Homo sapiens: one gene and its partner. The gene in region 2 interacts genetically with the main gene of each other region. Each region holds a gene or a part of one and is shown on either strand. Other genes may lie near its edges.

Region 1 (7,991 bases), on a different chromosome or scaffold from region 2:
CGATATGAGTTTGGACTGGATTTATGAGTTTTCTGAACTGAATATATGAAGTGCAGGAATTGTTAGATTATAGATGGCATTTAAAACCATAAGAATGGGATCAACAAGGGAGTAAGTGTAATAGAGAAGAGAGGAGGACTTCTGCAGCAATTCAGTGTTTGGGGAGGTAAGGAGAAACTATAAAGGACTGGGAAGAAGTGGCTACTGAGGTATTATAGAAGGAGAGTCAAGAGAATGTGGTTTCTAGACACAGGGAATGACAACTGTTTTAAATGCTGCTTCAGGGTCAAGTGAGATGAGGAGTTAGAACTGACGATCAGATTTTGCAATGCGGAAGTCATTGCAAAATCCCTAGATTTTGACAAGAGCAGTTTCTGAGAAATGATGGGGTGAAAGCCTGATTAGAGCTAGATCAAGAAGAATGGGAGAAGTAGAGATAGTAAATGTTTGCATCCTGTATGGCACCAATCACATTGTCAGGCATAAACCAGGCACAGAAATATTTGTTGAAATATTGTCAAACCTATAAAGTACTTTACATACTTTTTTGTTATGGAGTATTAAAAATAAACTTAAGCCGGCCAGGCACAGTAGCTCACACCTGTAATCTCAGCATTTTGGGAGGCTAAGGTGGGCAGATCACAAGGTCAGGAGTTCAAGACCAGCCTGGCCAACATGGTGAAACCCCATATCTACTAAAAATACAAAAAAAAAAAAAAATTAGCTGGGCATGGTGGCACACACCTGTAATCCCAGCTACTCAGGAGGCTGAGGCAGAAGAATCGCTTGAACCTGGGAGGCAGAGGTTGCAGTGAGCCAAGATCGTGCCATTGCACTCCAGCCTGGGTGACAGAGCGAGACTGCATCTCAAAAAAATAAATAAATAAAAATAAAAATAAAAATAAACTTAAGCCATATTGTTTAATGCTTTTTCCTAATAACATTGAATTATCTATATATTTACATGTATATAGTAAATTTACATATATATATATACACAATATATTTACAAGACTTGAAAGGAATGTTTCCCAACACTTTTAAAAATTTGTTTTAATAGCTTCATTGAAGTATAATTCACATGTAACTCATCATTTAAACTGACTGATTCAATAATTTTTAGTATATTCACAAATAGGTGAAACCATCACCCTAGTCAATTTTAGAACATTTCCGTCTCCTCACAAAGAAACCCTACATCCTTTAGCTATCACCCCTCCACCTCACTGTTACATGGCCCCTAGCCCTAGGCAACCTTGAATCTACTTTCTATCTATAGATTTGCCTATTTTGGACATTTTATATAAATGGAATCATATAATAAGTGGTCTTTTGTGACTGACTCCTTTCACTCTGCATAATGTTTTTAAGTTTCATCCATGTTGCAGCATGAATAGTACTTCATTCCTTTTTATTGCCAAATGATATATCATTTTGTTTATCCATTTATCTACTGATAGACATTTGGGTTATTTCTACTTTTTGGTTATTGTGAGTAGTGCTGCTATGAACATTTGTGTTCAAGGTATATAGTTAACAGTGGAATTGCTGGGTCATATGGTAATTCTATGTCCAACTCTTTGAGGAACTGCCAAATTGTCTCCTATAGTGGCTGGACCATTTTACATTCCTACCAGCAATTGATCAGGGTTCCAATTTCTTCATATCTTCACCAATTATTATTTTCTGTCTTCTTTTTAAATTTAGTCATCCTAGTGGATTTGAAGTGATATCTCATTGTGGTTTTACCCATCACTCTTTACTTCTTCAATATGAGCTTCTCTTTCTTGTGTTATAAAACTGGAACATCATTTTCTCCTACTACATCCTAGCATTGCTTGAAAAATAAATCTTTGAATTTATTCACAATAAAGGTAATGTGTACACTTCACAATACCACTCTGGATCCCACAGATATCTTTTAAATATTATGGTTATCTTTTAAAAAACAGAAACTCCAGATTCTTACAATTCCCCATGATCTCTTCTACCCCAGGATTTAGTTATTTATGTAATAACTAAATAAGGGAAATGCTGAAATAGATAATCTGTTAATTATCTTCTCTTTACTGGATTATATGATTTTCCTTCAATATCCAAAACCAGTTTTTTTTGTTTGTTTTTGTTTTTGTTTTGAGGTGAAGTCTTGTTCTGTGGCCCAGGCTGGAGGTCAGTGGCGCTATCTTGGCTTACTGCAAACTCCCGCCCTGGGTTCAAGAGATTCTTCTGCCTTAGCCTCTGGGGATTACAGGTGCGTGCCACCACACCCAGATAATTTTTGTATTTTTTAGTAGAGACTGTTTCACCATGTTGGCCAGGCTGGTCTCGAACTCCTGACCTCAAATGATCTGCGCGCCTTGGCCTCCCAAACCAGTTTTGATATGCGATTTTTCTCTTAATCTAATGGTGACCAATGAGAGGATTTATGAACTGAATAACCACCATGCAATTGAAAGGCTTAGTGCTTCATTCAGAGTCAAATATAGGCAATTAGAATGCAACAGGGGGCCAGGCACAGTGGCTCACTGTAATCCCAGCACTTTGGGAGGCCTAGGCAGGTGGATCACTTGAGCCCAGGAGTTTGAGACCAGCCTGGGCAACATGGCGAAACCCCGTCTCCACAAAATGGAGAGAAAAAAAAAATTAGCCGTGCATAGTAGCATGTGCCTGTAGTCCCAACAACCTGGGAGGCTGAGGTGGGAGGATCACTTGAGCCCGAGGAGGTCGAGGCTGTAGTGAGTGAGCCGTGGACTGCAGCCTGGGTGACAGTGAAACCGTGTCAAAAAAAAAAAAAAAAAAAAGCAACAATAACAAGTAAAAACAACATCAGAGGTAAGATCCTACTAAAAATCTTTACCTTCCTCTCCCTGACTTGGGGTGGTTGTCTTCCTTTAAAAAACAAACAAAAAACTGTTTTGCCAAGTACCAAAACTATGTGTTTGCATCTGAAGCAATAAAACAAGGAGACCAGGTAGGGATGCAGGTTGTTACAGAAGTTGAAATCTATTTCCTGACAAAGGAGTAGCTACAAGTTGGAACACCTGGGGAGGCCTGGGGTAAATGCATATGCAAATAAGTGCTGGGAAAGTGCTCCTGGGATTCACCTCCCTTAAATACTTTCAGAAGTCATTACAGGTTATGAAACTTAGTGTTCTAATCATTACATTTATGGGAAAGAGTGGAAAGCAGTTCAGGTAACATAGCTGTAGTTGAACAGGCTAGGGGAGTGGTGGCTGGAGAAAGAAAAGAAATATAGTTGATCCAGGTTTTGGAAAGTTGAGATCTTGGGATGTGCTACTCCAGGAGAGTTAGGAAAAATACCCTTTTCCTCGACTATGGTACAGTACAGTAAGTATTGACTCTGAAAATGTTCGTAAGTACTGGCTTCCTTGGATCTAGAGGGAGTCACATTAAAATGGCTACATTTGTATCAGAGCTGTCTTTTATTCTTTTTGGCATGGTCAAGTCATTTCTAATCAGAGTAGGGGGAATACTGGTAGATCAGACGTCACTCAAACTCATGAGAATTATCTGTTTAACATCCACAAAGCAAGTAGCCCAACAAGCAAGGTCCCCAGGAGCCTACTTTATCCTCAAGGAATCTGCTTAGTCAATTGACGTATTCACAGGGCTGGAGAGGTATGAGTGGTGGTTACCTTCGTGCCAGAGCAGAACATGCCTTGTAGTTACTGCCATATTCTAGCCAAGTTACTCCATTTACTGTTCCTTTGTTCCTAAATTAACAAGGAGAAAAGACTGTGTGTTCAACACATGACCACAATAGAGAGGTTATTTAGAGAAAGCTTAAAATGTACTTGTGTTTTCTGTACTAGGCCTAGGGCACCCCAGTTATGAAGCCTTGGCCTGAGTTTCTCTCTAGACGGTGCTGAATTGCCATCTAGTTACCTATTCTGACACCAGGAACATGATTCTTCAACAAACATTGACGGAAGCTTACATGGGACCGGATCACAGCGCTGAGAAGCACTGGGGCTAAGGGGCGGCACAAAGTCTAGATATGGTGGCAGCACCTGCTCATAATGAAATGCCCACAGTTTAGTGGAACACAGCTGCTATTACTCACCTGTCTATCATTTTGTTTGGGAGAGCCCTGGTGGGAGAGGAGTATGGTATTTAATATTTAATTGAGCAGTTATATGTGAAAGAGCGTTTTCACGAGACTTAACTCCTTTCATCCTCAAATAACCCTACAAGGCGGGTACTATTCTATCCCTATGTTACAGATAAGGAAACTGAGGCAGAGAAGTTGCGTGCTTCATCAAGGTCACACAACCACTCCGTGGAGGCAAGTTGAACACAGGCTGTCCGGCTTCTGAGAGCCAGTGGAGAGGAGGGAGACGGTGGGAGACGGGCAGGGGGAAAAGGTGGAAGTAGACCCGAAGGGCAGGCTTGATCTTCATAAGAGAAAACAGTACTAACACCATCCACTGATTGACTCGCATATTTCCATCACTTAAAGCTCCTGGCGTCACTGCCAGGAATGGAAAGTTAAAAAACTCCCAGCTCTGTAAGGTTCTGCCTGGATCCTGAAAAAAACCTTCCCACATGCCCCGAGGAAACTCGAGGGCTCGCTTCTTTCTCACATCCCTGGCCCGGGGCACCGGAGGTCCCGCTCCGGCGGAGGAACTACAACCCCCACAGCACCGCGCGCGAAGCTGGGCCCCCCTGAGGGAAGGGTAAGGTGTCCCGAAGGTGCCTTCAGAAAAAAATTACGTACGTTTTTCGTCGCTTTCCCACGATCACACAGATCTCAGGTCCAGGAGGACGCATCGTCTTTTTAGTAACAGTGCATGCTGTGAGGCTTGTAGAGTCGCCTCTCTCTTCAGGCGCAGCAGAGGGCGGCCGCAATAGTACGCTCGCGCGGCGGTGGCGGGTGGTGGTCCTTGGACCACGCGGTGGGCGGAGCCAGCGGCGACGGCCTCCCCTCCCCTCCGGACGCAGGCCGGAAGTACGTGAGAGGAGACTTCCGGCCACTGCGTTGTAGTCGGCCCGGCTGCAAAGCGTTTTTCTGCAGGCTGTTTTCCCAGGTTCCCTCGGCCTGTACCTCGCGCACTCCTCTTGCTCCAGGTCCTTCAGTCTCCGCTCGTCTCACCGTAGGCTGTGACGACATGAGCAACAAAGAAGGTGGCGTCCTTAACAACACGGGGCGTTATTTATCCGGAGGGGGAGGTTCTCCAGTCTTTCTATGCAGTTTTCCCCTTTTCACCCTTGAAGGATGCCTTCGTCCCTTGTAGACTCGGGGGCGGCCCCTCTGTTTCTCTCCCCGGCCAGATCGGCCCTGTTTACACCTCCTTTTTTCTTAAATTTTTGAGGTGTGATTTTATCCTAGTTCAGTAATTGCTGTAATGCCAGATCATAGCACCAGTTGGTGGAAACTTGGATGATTTGCTTGGAAAGGCCTGGGCAGCGTCTCTGTCAGTCTGCGGAGAAAGCCTCTAAGGCGAGGGCCCTGTGGGTATCTGGTTTTAAAGCAAGGAGTAGGTTTGTCTATGTTGTGTTTTGCAAACTCTTGGTGATGGAAGATCCCTCTCTTTTTTTCTTCTCTATATAAGGATCAGGAGGGTTCAGGAAAAGGAAGCATGACAATTTCCCACATAACCAAAGAAGAGAAGGGAAGGATGTTAATTCATCTTCACCCGTGATGTTGGCCTTTAAATGTAAGTTCTCTGCAATGTAAGTTGAAGAAGGGGAGAGAACAAAATTATTTAGCCATGGTTATGCGCAAGAAAACAGTCCCTAAGAATTTAATGTGAAACTTTAGCTGGAGGTTTTGTGATGGCGCTAGATGTACCCTAAAAGTCTGGATTACAAAGGCCTTCACTTTTATGTCCCATTAAGAGAAATATTAGTAATCAGGTAAACATGACTTAAACACAAGAAACAGTAAACATTAATTAATATTTGACATGTCACATACTCAAGAATTGTGTACCTGATAATATTTACTCATCTGTTATATGCTAAAATATATTTTCATTTAGTGTGTATTTGTTTCCTCTACTAGACTTGAAGACAGGGACGGTATCTTTGTTTTAACTGTAACACTTAGCACAGAGTGGGAGCTTGTATCTATTAGTGAATCTCGCATATCTATATACACATATTTTCACAGTCCCCTTTTCTCAGCATATTAACTTGGACAAGTTATTCCTCAATTCAAAACAAACACAAAACAAAATCCTCTTCCTTTTGTCCCTGTCTATCCACTATCCTGTACCTTACGTTTCTGTGATTAAGGAATCTGGGAAGGGCTTAGCTGGTTGATTCCTATTTGCAATCACCTGAAGCCTTGATTGGGGCTGAAGGATCTACAGCTGTTGATAGTTTAGGCCTTTTGCCTGCAACCAGCTCTCTGTTCCTGTCCACATGAACTTCTTGTGCTGCTTGGATGTCCTTTGGTGTGGCATCTGGCCTCCTTCAGAGAGAGAGAGTGCAAGAGAGCAAGGAGGAAACCACAATCTCTATGTCCTAATCTCAGACATCAGACACTGTCATTTTTGTCACATTGTGTTTGTTAGAAGGGAGGCAGTTTTAAAAACTGTCTCACATTGAAGAGGAAGGAAGTTATGTCCCACCCTTTGGAGGGAGGAGTCTCAGGTTATTTGTGGATATATTTGAAAACCACCACAGTATCTACTGTGATCGTCAGAAGTTTAAGACAGCTGGCCGTAATTGAATAAAGAGCGTACTGATACAGAAGGTGGAGTTGCGGCTGGGTGTGGTGGCTCACGCCTGTAATCCCAGCACTTTGGGAGGCCGAGGCGGGGGGATCACGAGGCCATGAGTTTGAGACCAGCCTGGCCAACATGGTGAAACCCTGACTCTAATAAAGTACACGGTGAAACCCCGTCTCTACTAAAAATACAAAAAATTAGCCGGGCGTCAGTAGTCCCCACTACTTGGGAGGCTGAGGCAGGAGAATGGCGTGAACCCAGGAGGCGGAGCTTGCAGTGAGCCGAGATCGTGCCACTGCACTCCAGCCTGGGCAACAGAGCGAGGCTCCGTCTCAAAAAAAAAAAAAAAAAAGTACGAAAAATTAGTTGGTCGTAGTGGGAGGTGCCTGTAATCCCAGCTACTCGGGAGGCTGAGGCAGGAGAATCGCTTGAACCCGGAACGCGGAGGTTGCAGTGAGCCGAGATCGCGCCTTTGCACTCCAGCCCCGGCGACAGAATGAGACTCCATCTCAAAAAAAAGAAAAGGTGGAGTTGCTTCTAAGGTGGTGTCCTCATTACCCGTCTGCTGAACTACAGTTTTTTGGTTTTTTTTTTTTTTTGAGACAGAGTCTCTGTCACACAGGCTGAGATAATAATTAGGCACGATCTTGGCTCACTGCAAAACCTCTGCCTCCTGGGCTCAAGCCATTTTCCTACCTCAGCCTCCTGAGTAGCTGGGACTACAGGCGTGTGTCACCATGCCTAATTTTTTTAAATTTTTTTGTAGAGACAGGGTTTCGCCATGTTGCTGGAGGCTGGTCTTGATCTCCGAGCTCAAGCAGTCTGCCCGTCTCGGCCTCTCAGAGTGCTGGGATTACAGGCGTGAGCCACTGCGCCTGGCCTGAACTACAATTTTCTTTAAGACCTAGCTCAAGTAGCCTCTTTCCTGTGAATGCGTTCTGATTTTTCTCTCAAGCCGACTTGGTGACCAACATGAAATATTTATTGAGTATCTGCTATGTTCTCGCATGTATTAGTAGTGAACAAGAAACGTGGTTTCTGCTTTCATAAGTTTTTTACATATATTTGTTATAGCATGATTACATTTTATTTGTTTACATCTCTGTCCCTCATACAGGACTGAGCTCCTTGAGGATAGGAATTGTTCCTTATCTAACTTTGTGTTCATAGTGTCTGACTTACAGTGGTCATTAATATAGCCATAATAAATAATGAATACATATTGATTATCTTAACCCTGGCCTAGTTATTATCTCAGTAATAAAAGACTAGATATATTTAGATCCATGTCAGCTA
Region 2 (7,960 bases):
ATTTTATTTTATTTTATTTTTAGAGATAGGGTCTTGCTCTGTCAGGCGGGAGTGCAGTGGTGCAATCATAGCTGACTGTAGCCATGAATTCCTGGGTTCGAGCCATCTTCCTGCCTCAGCCTCCAGAGCAGCTGGAACTAGAGGCACGCACCACCTCGCTCAGCTAATTTTTTTTTTTTTTGCAGGAACAAGGTTTTTACTATGTTGCCCAGGCTTAAAATTTTTTGTAAAATATATTTTAAAAAAGAATTATCACCTGACCTGGAGTGAAAATCACCTGGAGTGAATGTTAAAAAAGTGCATATTCCTACACTTCAAACTAGATCTACTGAATCACAATCTCTGATGATAGGACCCAAGAGTCTGCATAACAATCATCTCATATGACTTTTATGCCCAATAAAGATTGAGAATTATTGGATTAATATGATACTTAACAGTGGCCACTTCCAGAAAATGGGACTTGGAGGGCAACGAGGGCTTTCCCTTTCATTTTACTTTATACACTTTTTGTTTTAAAATTTTATTTTTTATTTTTTGAGACAGGGTTTCACTCTATCACCCAGGCTGTAGTGTAATGGTGGGATCACAGCTCACTGCAGCCTCAAACTCCTGGGTTCAAAAAACTCTCCCGCCTCAGCCTCCAAAGGACTAGGATTACAGGCATGAGCCACCGTGCCAGCCTAAAATTTTTATAAACATTTATTACATATACACTAATCTATATCTACTAGAGATTTTTGAGGTTCAAATGATTGAAACATTAAATATTGATTGTCTGGGTCATATTAATGAGAAAATCTATTACCAATTGAGCTTATTCAGAAAGAGAAAAGATGAGCCAGGCACAGTGGCTCATGCCTCTAATCCCAGAACTTTGGGAGGCTGAGGTGGGCGGATCACTTGAGGTCGGGAGTTCAAGACCAGCTTGGCCAACATGGTAAAACCCCGTCGTCTACTAAAAATACAAAACTTAGCTGGGTGTGGTGGCACATGCCTGCAATCCCAGCTACTCAGATGGCTGAGGCGTGAGAATCTCGATTCTTGTGAATTGCTTAAACCTAGAAGGCAGAGGTTGCAGTGAGCCGAGATCATGCCACTGCACTCCAGCCTGGGCGACAGTGAGGCTCCATCTCAAAAAAAGAAAAAAAACAAACAAACAGAGAGAAAAGACTACCTAAGGCTATAAATTTGGCAACATATAACAAATTATTAAACTTTTCCTTCATTCATTCAACAAATATTTGCTGAGCAGCTGTGTTCCAGGTACCCTTCTATGTGCCAAAGATAGAGTGAAGAATTTTAGGCAAGATTTCTACCCTTGAGGAGGTTACTTTAGAGTTGGGGAGGAAAGACAGATTGAGAAAAGTGGGGGTAAGGTGAGGGACAAGGAAAGGCTTTTTCCAGGAGTGATTTTTGACTGAGACCTGGAAGATGAATCAGTCACATGAAAAGATGAGCAAGAGCAGCCATCCTGATCAGAGATCTTGACTGATTTAAGGGACAGAAAGGAGTTCTGCGAAAATGGAGCAGAGTGAGAGGAGAGCAGCACCAGACGAGGCTGCCGAGGAAGCCAGAGCTAGATCGCGTACAGTTTTGTAAAGAATTCAGATTTTATTCTGGGAAGCCAGCGATAGGTATTAAGAAAAAAATGATATTATCTCTTTTGCATGATCTAAGTGATCAGCAGCCTTTCACCTGGTATTTTCACTTAGCTGAATGTGAATACAAATGTCTGGTTTGAAACTCCTGAGCTCAACGGATCTTCCTATCTAGGCCTCCCAAAATGCTGGGATTACAGGCATGAGCCACAGCACCTGGCCTGGGTTATATTTTATAGGATGGTTTACTTTTATAAAACAAATTACAGGCCAGGCGCGTTGGCTCACGCCTGTAATCCCAGTGCTCTGGGGGGCTGAGGCGGGTGGATCATCTGGGGTCGGAAGTTTGAGACCAGCCTGACCAACATGGTGAAACCCCATCTCTACTAAAAATACAGAAATTAGCCGGGTGTAGTGGCAGGTGCCTGTAATCCCAGCTACTCGGGAGGCTGAGGCAGGAGAATTGCTTGAACCCGGGAGGCAGAGGTTGCAGTGAGCCGAGATTGCACCATTGCACTCCAGCCTGGGCGACAGAGTGAGATTTCATCTCAAAAAAAAAAAATTATAAATATCAAGGCACTATCACATTTTATTTCATTTGTCCTCACAAAAACTTTCTGTGATTGAGAGAATGTAAGTTATTATTCCAGGTTGATCAAAGAGGTAACTGAGATACTGAGCAGTTTAAGAAGTTAACTCATTGAACAAATGTCTGAGTGCAGACTATATAATCCTAATAAAAACAGTAGTTCTTAGTAGGGTATATATCTTAGTGATTAATTAGTAGTTACTAATTCAGGATCTTATTAGTAGTAGTTCTAGTTAGGATTATATATCTTGTTAATGTCTCAGCCAGAGTTAGAATATTTGATCCAGGATGTTGATGGAAACATAGCCACATTGCATGTATTTATGGCTGCTCTTTAGGAAGCCACTAGCATACAAAGCCCATAATGAAAGTCTTGGTAAATACATATGCTGATGTGTACCAAAAAAAGTAAGCCTTTTGGGTATGTCTTATAAAGGAAAGGTTTTGTGTTTGTTAAGTGTTATGTCATACATTTTTATGGAGCAAAACAATGTACATATTTTAAAAATACCTTTTATATGGATTAAAGGTTAAGATTAACCATATAAACCACAGAGTGTAAGGTATGTGTCAGCAACCACGATACAAAATAATATTTTATTGGCTGGACGTGTTGGCTCACGTAATCTCAACACTTTGGGAGGCTGAGGCGGGAGGATCATGAGGTCAGGAGATCGAGACCATCCTGGCTAACACGGTGAAACCTCGTCTCTATTTTAAAAATACAAAAAATTAGCTGGGCGTAGTGGCACACGCCTGTAGTCCCAACTACTTGGGAGGCTGAGGCAGGAGAATAACTTGAACCTGGGAGGTGGAGGTGGCAGTGAGCTGAGATCATGCCACTGCACTCTAGCCTAGGCACGACAGAGTTAGACTTCGTCTCTAATAATAATAATAATAATATTTTATGAAACAATGTTAACTTTGAGCTGTATAGCTTGATTTCTTTGCATTCTTTATAAAGTATAAATAAAATATAAATAGATGTTTTATACCTCAGTTGCAGAGACATCAGAAAATGAATTCTAGACAGGAGCTTGAAGAGTTCAGATAAAACTCCCAAAATTATAGAAAAAATAAAAACTAAACCCTGATTTGGTCAAATTTCACTTGAAACCGGGGTACTCAAGTGTGTCATTTCTGGAATGTAAAAGAAGTTATTTTCCACATTGTCTATCCAGTGTGGTTTTTTTTCCATAGAAATTATATGCACTTTAGAATGGATTCAATAGAATTGTTCTTTTGACAGGTATACCTTCAATATGTTCAAGCTACAGATGAAGCCAGTCTTTTAACAGTTTTTTAAGGACCTACATGATTACTTACATTAGATAGAAAACTCTAGGCACACATATATCCACATAAGCATTGATGTATATATCCAGTTTCCAATTTTAAAATTTTAAATTGTATATTTGTAGTTATTGTTACAGGGAGATTATCAATGACTAGGGAAGGCCGGGCGCAGTGGCTCATGCCTGTAATCTCAGCACTCTGGGTGGTGGAGGCGGGTGGATTACCTGAGGTCAGGAGTTTGAGACCAGCCTGGCCAACATGGTGAAACCCCGTCTCTACTAAAAATACAAAAATTAGCCAGGCGTGGTGGCGCGGGCCTGTAATCCCACCTACTCGGAAGGCTGAGGCGTGAGAATCGCTTGAACACAGGAGGCAGAGATTGCAGTGAGCGGAGATCGCGCCACTGCACTCCAGCCTGAGCGACAGAGCAAGACTCCCCCTCAAAAACAAACAAAACAAAACAACAACAACAAAAAACAATGACTAGGGAAAGTAGGCCATGAAAAGTGTTGTTTCCAACCTATCAATTGCCAGTACTACAAGCAGGAGTTAGACGTTTGGAGGTTTTCACACGGTGCTATAAATACAGTTTCCAGGGCCCCGGTACACGTGGCCTTCCTGCTCTGCCAGGATGGAGAGTCTTGCTTTCCACATTGCTGATGTGGTCAGACTAATTAAATTATTGCAAAAAGACACATTCCCTAGTCAACCTTATGTGTCTGCCTTCTTCCCTTGAGTCACAGTTGTTGGCTTTACAGGCCAAGGCAAGTAAGTCTTGAACCCTCAGCAGAAACAGGGCACCAGCATCGGATGCCTCATAACCTGAACAGTTAAGGACGCCCCACCACAGAGCTTCTTTCTGAGTGTGATAAACTATAAGGCAAGACTGTAAAGGGGTGGATCTTCATTTCGATTTAGGGTAGGTGACACCTCAAGGGTGTTTCTTCCCTTCCAGCGTAACTGGATGGGAAACCTACACCAAGTGTGCTTGGGAGGGCTGCTTGGGTCAGCTACCTGTAAGTGGAAATAGGGGGTGCCACCTTCCGATGAAAACCCGGATCCCGTACTGTCAACGGAGGGCCCTTGAATTCACATCCCTCAGCCCGCTAGAAAGCCCCTGAAACCACGTGGCCTTTAACCCATTCCGGCAACAGCGCCAATTCCCGGAAGCGAGAGGGCAAGAAAGCTCGGCGCGACGCTTCCCGCGTCTTCTAGGCCGCGCGCTGAAATCAAACGCGACGCCGGCTAGCTGTGGGCCGGGCCGAGCGCTCAACGCTCCAGCGGCTGGGTAAGCCGCGGCCGCCGCCCACCCCGCTGCAGAGCTGGGCGGGGCCGCCTGGAGGCAGCGGGGAGAGGCCAGCCGAAAAGGAAGAAGAGACGCCGGAGGCGCGCTCTGCGCAGGCGCGCGGCGCCCCGCCTCCCCAGCGTCGGCTCCCCGGCGGGCGGTGCGGGCCCTCCCACTCTACCCCGCGCCGTCTCACGGCCCCGGCCCTAGCTTCACCCCGACTACCCGGCGTGCGCGTCCTCCTGCCGGCCTGCAGGCCCGGGGCCTCCGCCTGCTTCCCCACAGCTGCTCCTTGCGGCCCCGCTTGCGTTCACGCTGTCGCCCGGGCCGGCGCGGCCGCGGGCAACCGCTCCCCCTCCCACACCTACCCCGCCCCCTCCCCGCCTTTTCCGCCCTCCGGTCCCCCTCCCTCGGCCCGCTGCTGCTGCTCCAGATGAGGTGATGGCAACGGCCAACTTCGGCAAGATCCAGATCGGGATTTACGTGGAGATCAAGCGCAGCGATGGTGAGCCGCGCTGCCAGCCCCGCTGGCCCGCTCGGCCCCGTGTTCGGGTGTGCACGGAGGGGACGCGGGCGCCGGCCGCCTCATTGATTGCTTCGCCGGGCTGTGGGGGTGGGAAGGCGGCGGCCGCGGCGCTTTTGTGTGTGGCGTGTGTGCCAGTGAGGCCGGCTTGGGGTCCGCCCGGGCGCTGCTGCAGTTCTCCGGATCGGGCCGCGGGGGAGGGAAGCCGGGTGGGGAAAGGGCCCGGGTGTCGAGGGTCGCGTCTCCGGGGGTCTCTGGGCGAGGGCCGCTCGCTCCTCCTCCCGCAATCTCCAGCCCCCCCCCGGGGACACCAGCCCGGGAGGGAGCGGGCTTCGTTAGGGATGACCCTGCCTCGCGCTTCCCCTTGGTCTTTGCATTTTACCGGCTTGGCCTCTGACGGGGATGGGGATGGGGGTGGGGGAGCGGGAAGACCAGCGATTTCACATTTAGAGAACCGACTGCTGGTCGGAGGCCGAGATGGGGGGAAAGAGCCAGTTCCGTCGCCTTAAACTGCCGTCTGGTTGTCAGGCCTCCCCGGTTTCGTCGTCGACCATGCTGCTTTCTTTTTTGCCACTTCTTGGGAGAAAAATGTGGAGAATATCGCGCTGAGCCATGAATAAGGGTGGGGGAGCAATGGGAAGAAATATTCGATGGGCTTCTCCAAGGTGATGAGACTGTAAAGGGAATGATAGGGGATGGGCAGAGTCAATGCGAGGCACTGCTGAGAGAGTGGGGGTGGGCGACCGGATGTTGATATTTTCACACCCTCGGGAGAGGTAACTGAGAAAAGTGTAAGGCGAGGTGAAGACACATGCTTCATTTTTTTTTTTAAGAGCCTTAGGCTTATGTATCTTTCTCTAGGTTTCTCTTGGGGAAAATGGTTTATGACACTAGCTTGGGGTGTGGAGTGAGATACGCCAGCCAGACTGGAAATAATTCATATTGTAAAGGAATAAATGCACGGAGGGAGATAAGTAAAATTATTTTCTTTCGGTACCAATATTGAAAGAACGAGAGATGTGTGATAATCTCGAGTTGAGCAGTGTTCCTGACTCCATCTCTCATACCGATTCCTTTTTTTTTTTTTTTGAGACGGATTTTCACCCAGGCTGGAGTGCAGTGGTGCGATCTCGGCCCACTGCAACCTCCGCCTCCCGTGTTGAAGCTATTCTTGTGCCTCAGCCTCCTGAGTAGCTGGGATTACAGGCGTTGTCACCACACCCAGCTAATTTTTTGTATTTTTAGTAGAGACGGGGTTTCACCATGTTGACAAGGCTGGTCTCGAACTCCTGACCTCAAGTGATCCACCTGCCTCGGCCTCCCAATGTGCTGGGATTACAGGCGTGAGCCATCGCGCCTGGCCTCGATTCCTTTTATGAGTGCCTTATTTATTAACCTTTAGCCTAGCCTAGTCAGTAGTAACTTGGCTGTCACGTCCACGTGCCCCTTGGATTCTGCCAGGTTTGACCAAGTTACGTGAAGCTAGATTGATTTTCATGTTGTGTGTATGATATATTGGAAGACCCTATATAGCTAATGATTTTTTCCTCCGTTATATTTGAAGTAATTTGTGGTAACAACTGAAACCATCGTTATCCTGTATATGAAAAGATAAATTATACCGCTTAGAGCTTTAGAAATTACCAATAACACTAATGGGAAAGAGATACCTTCTTTACTTGGGTTGAGGTTTCTTTTATATTTTCTCTTCAGATTACTTTCTTGAAAGAGTGCTGTTAATGTCATTTTTTTAGGTAAATACGAGTTCACAGTATACCAGCAAAAGTAGGATTTACATATTATTTTGAAGATTCTGGGTGCACAGCAACACCTGTCCCTGGTATACACCCAAGGGAGAGGAAATCACCACCTTGTGAAGATATCTGCACTCTCGCGTTCATTGCAGCATTATTCACAGTAGCCAAGATAGGGAAGCAACCTAAATGTCCATCGATGGGTGAGGAATGGCTAAAGAAATTATGTGTGTGTGTATACGTTTATGTGTGTGTATAGACAATGTACAATGGAACATTATTCAGCCTTAAAAAAGGAGATCCTACTGTTTACCACAACATAGATGGACCTGAAGGACGTTATGTTAAATGAGATAAGCCAGACACCAAGGAAAATATTGCATAATCTCACTCATATGTAGAATATTTTTTTAAGGAGCTAAAATACACAGAACGAAACAGTGGTTACTACTGGTGGTGGGGAAGGAGAGGAAATGGGGAGATATAGGTCAAGGATACAAAATAGCAGATATGTAGGATGAACAAGTTTAGAGATACAGGGGGACCAATGTTAGTAAAATTGTATTAGAGATTTTTGTTAAATAAGTGGATTTTAGCAGCTCTTGTTAAAGTATGTGAAATGATAGCTATATTAATCTGCTTCACCATTTTGCTGTCTATATTCCATAGCATCATGTTGTAAACCTCAGTTGCACAATGAAATTTATTTTTTAAAAAATTAGGGTGCAATAAAATGTGTAAATTCTTTACACTCATAAGTATGAGTATAGGTGTTAACTTTGAAATCGTATCAGAAAAAGTATATGATATTTGATTTATACATTTTAATTTCTACGGAGCATATTTTATTTAAATTTATTGAACTTGAAGCAATTTTCGTTCTTTTCAGCCTTCACCTTCAGCCTATACCAG

Evidence for each region. Genes that interact genetically often act in the same process or in processes that back each other up.
Region 1: of KIF2A (region 2) and TSNAX, changing one suppresses a phenotype caused by changing the other (phenotypic suppression), as found in Homo sapiens cells (one study listed by BioGRID).

The regions. Positions count from the first base shown.
Region 1 is NC_000001.11:231,523,682-231,531,672, forward strand, and holds the start of TSNAX (translin-associated protein X), read left to right. Parts: upstream 1-4,987; 5' UTR 4,988-5,129; coding exon 5,130-5,145; intron 5,146-5,573; coding exon 5,574-5,678; intron 5,679-7,991.
Region 2 is NC_000005.10:62,301,261-62,309,220, forward strand, and holds the start of KIF2A (kinesin-like protein KIF2A), read left to right. Parts: upstream 1-4,945; 5' UTR 4,946-5,212; coding exon 5,213-5,276; intron 5,277-7,048; exon of another isoform or gene 7,049-7,251; intron 7,252-7,960. UniProt on the Homo sapiens protein: Plus end-directed microtubule-dependent motor required for normal brain development. May regulate microtubule dynamics during axonal growth. Required for normal progression through mitosis. Required for normal congress of chromosomes at the metaphase plate.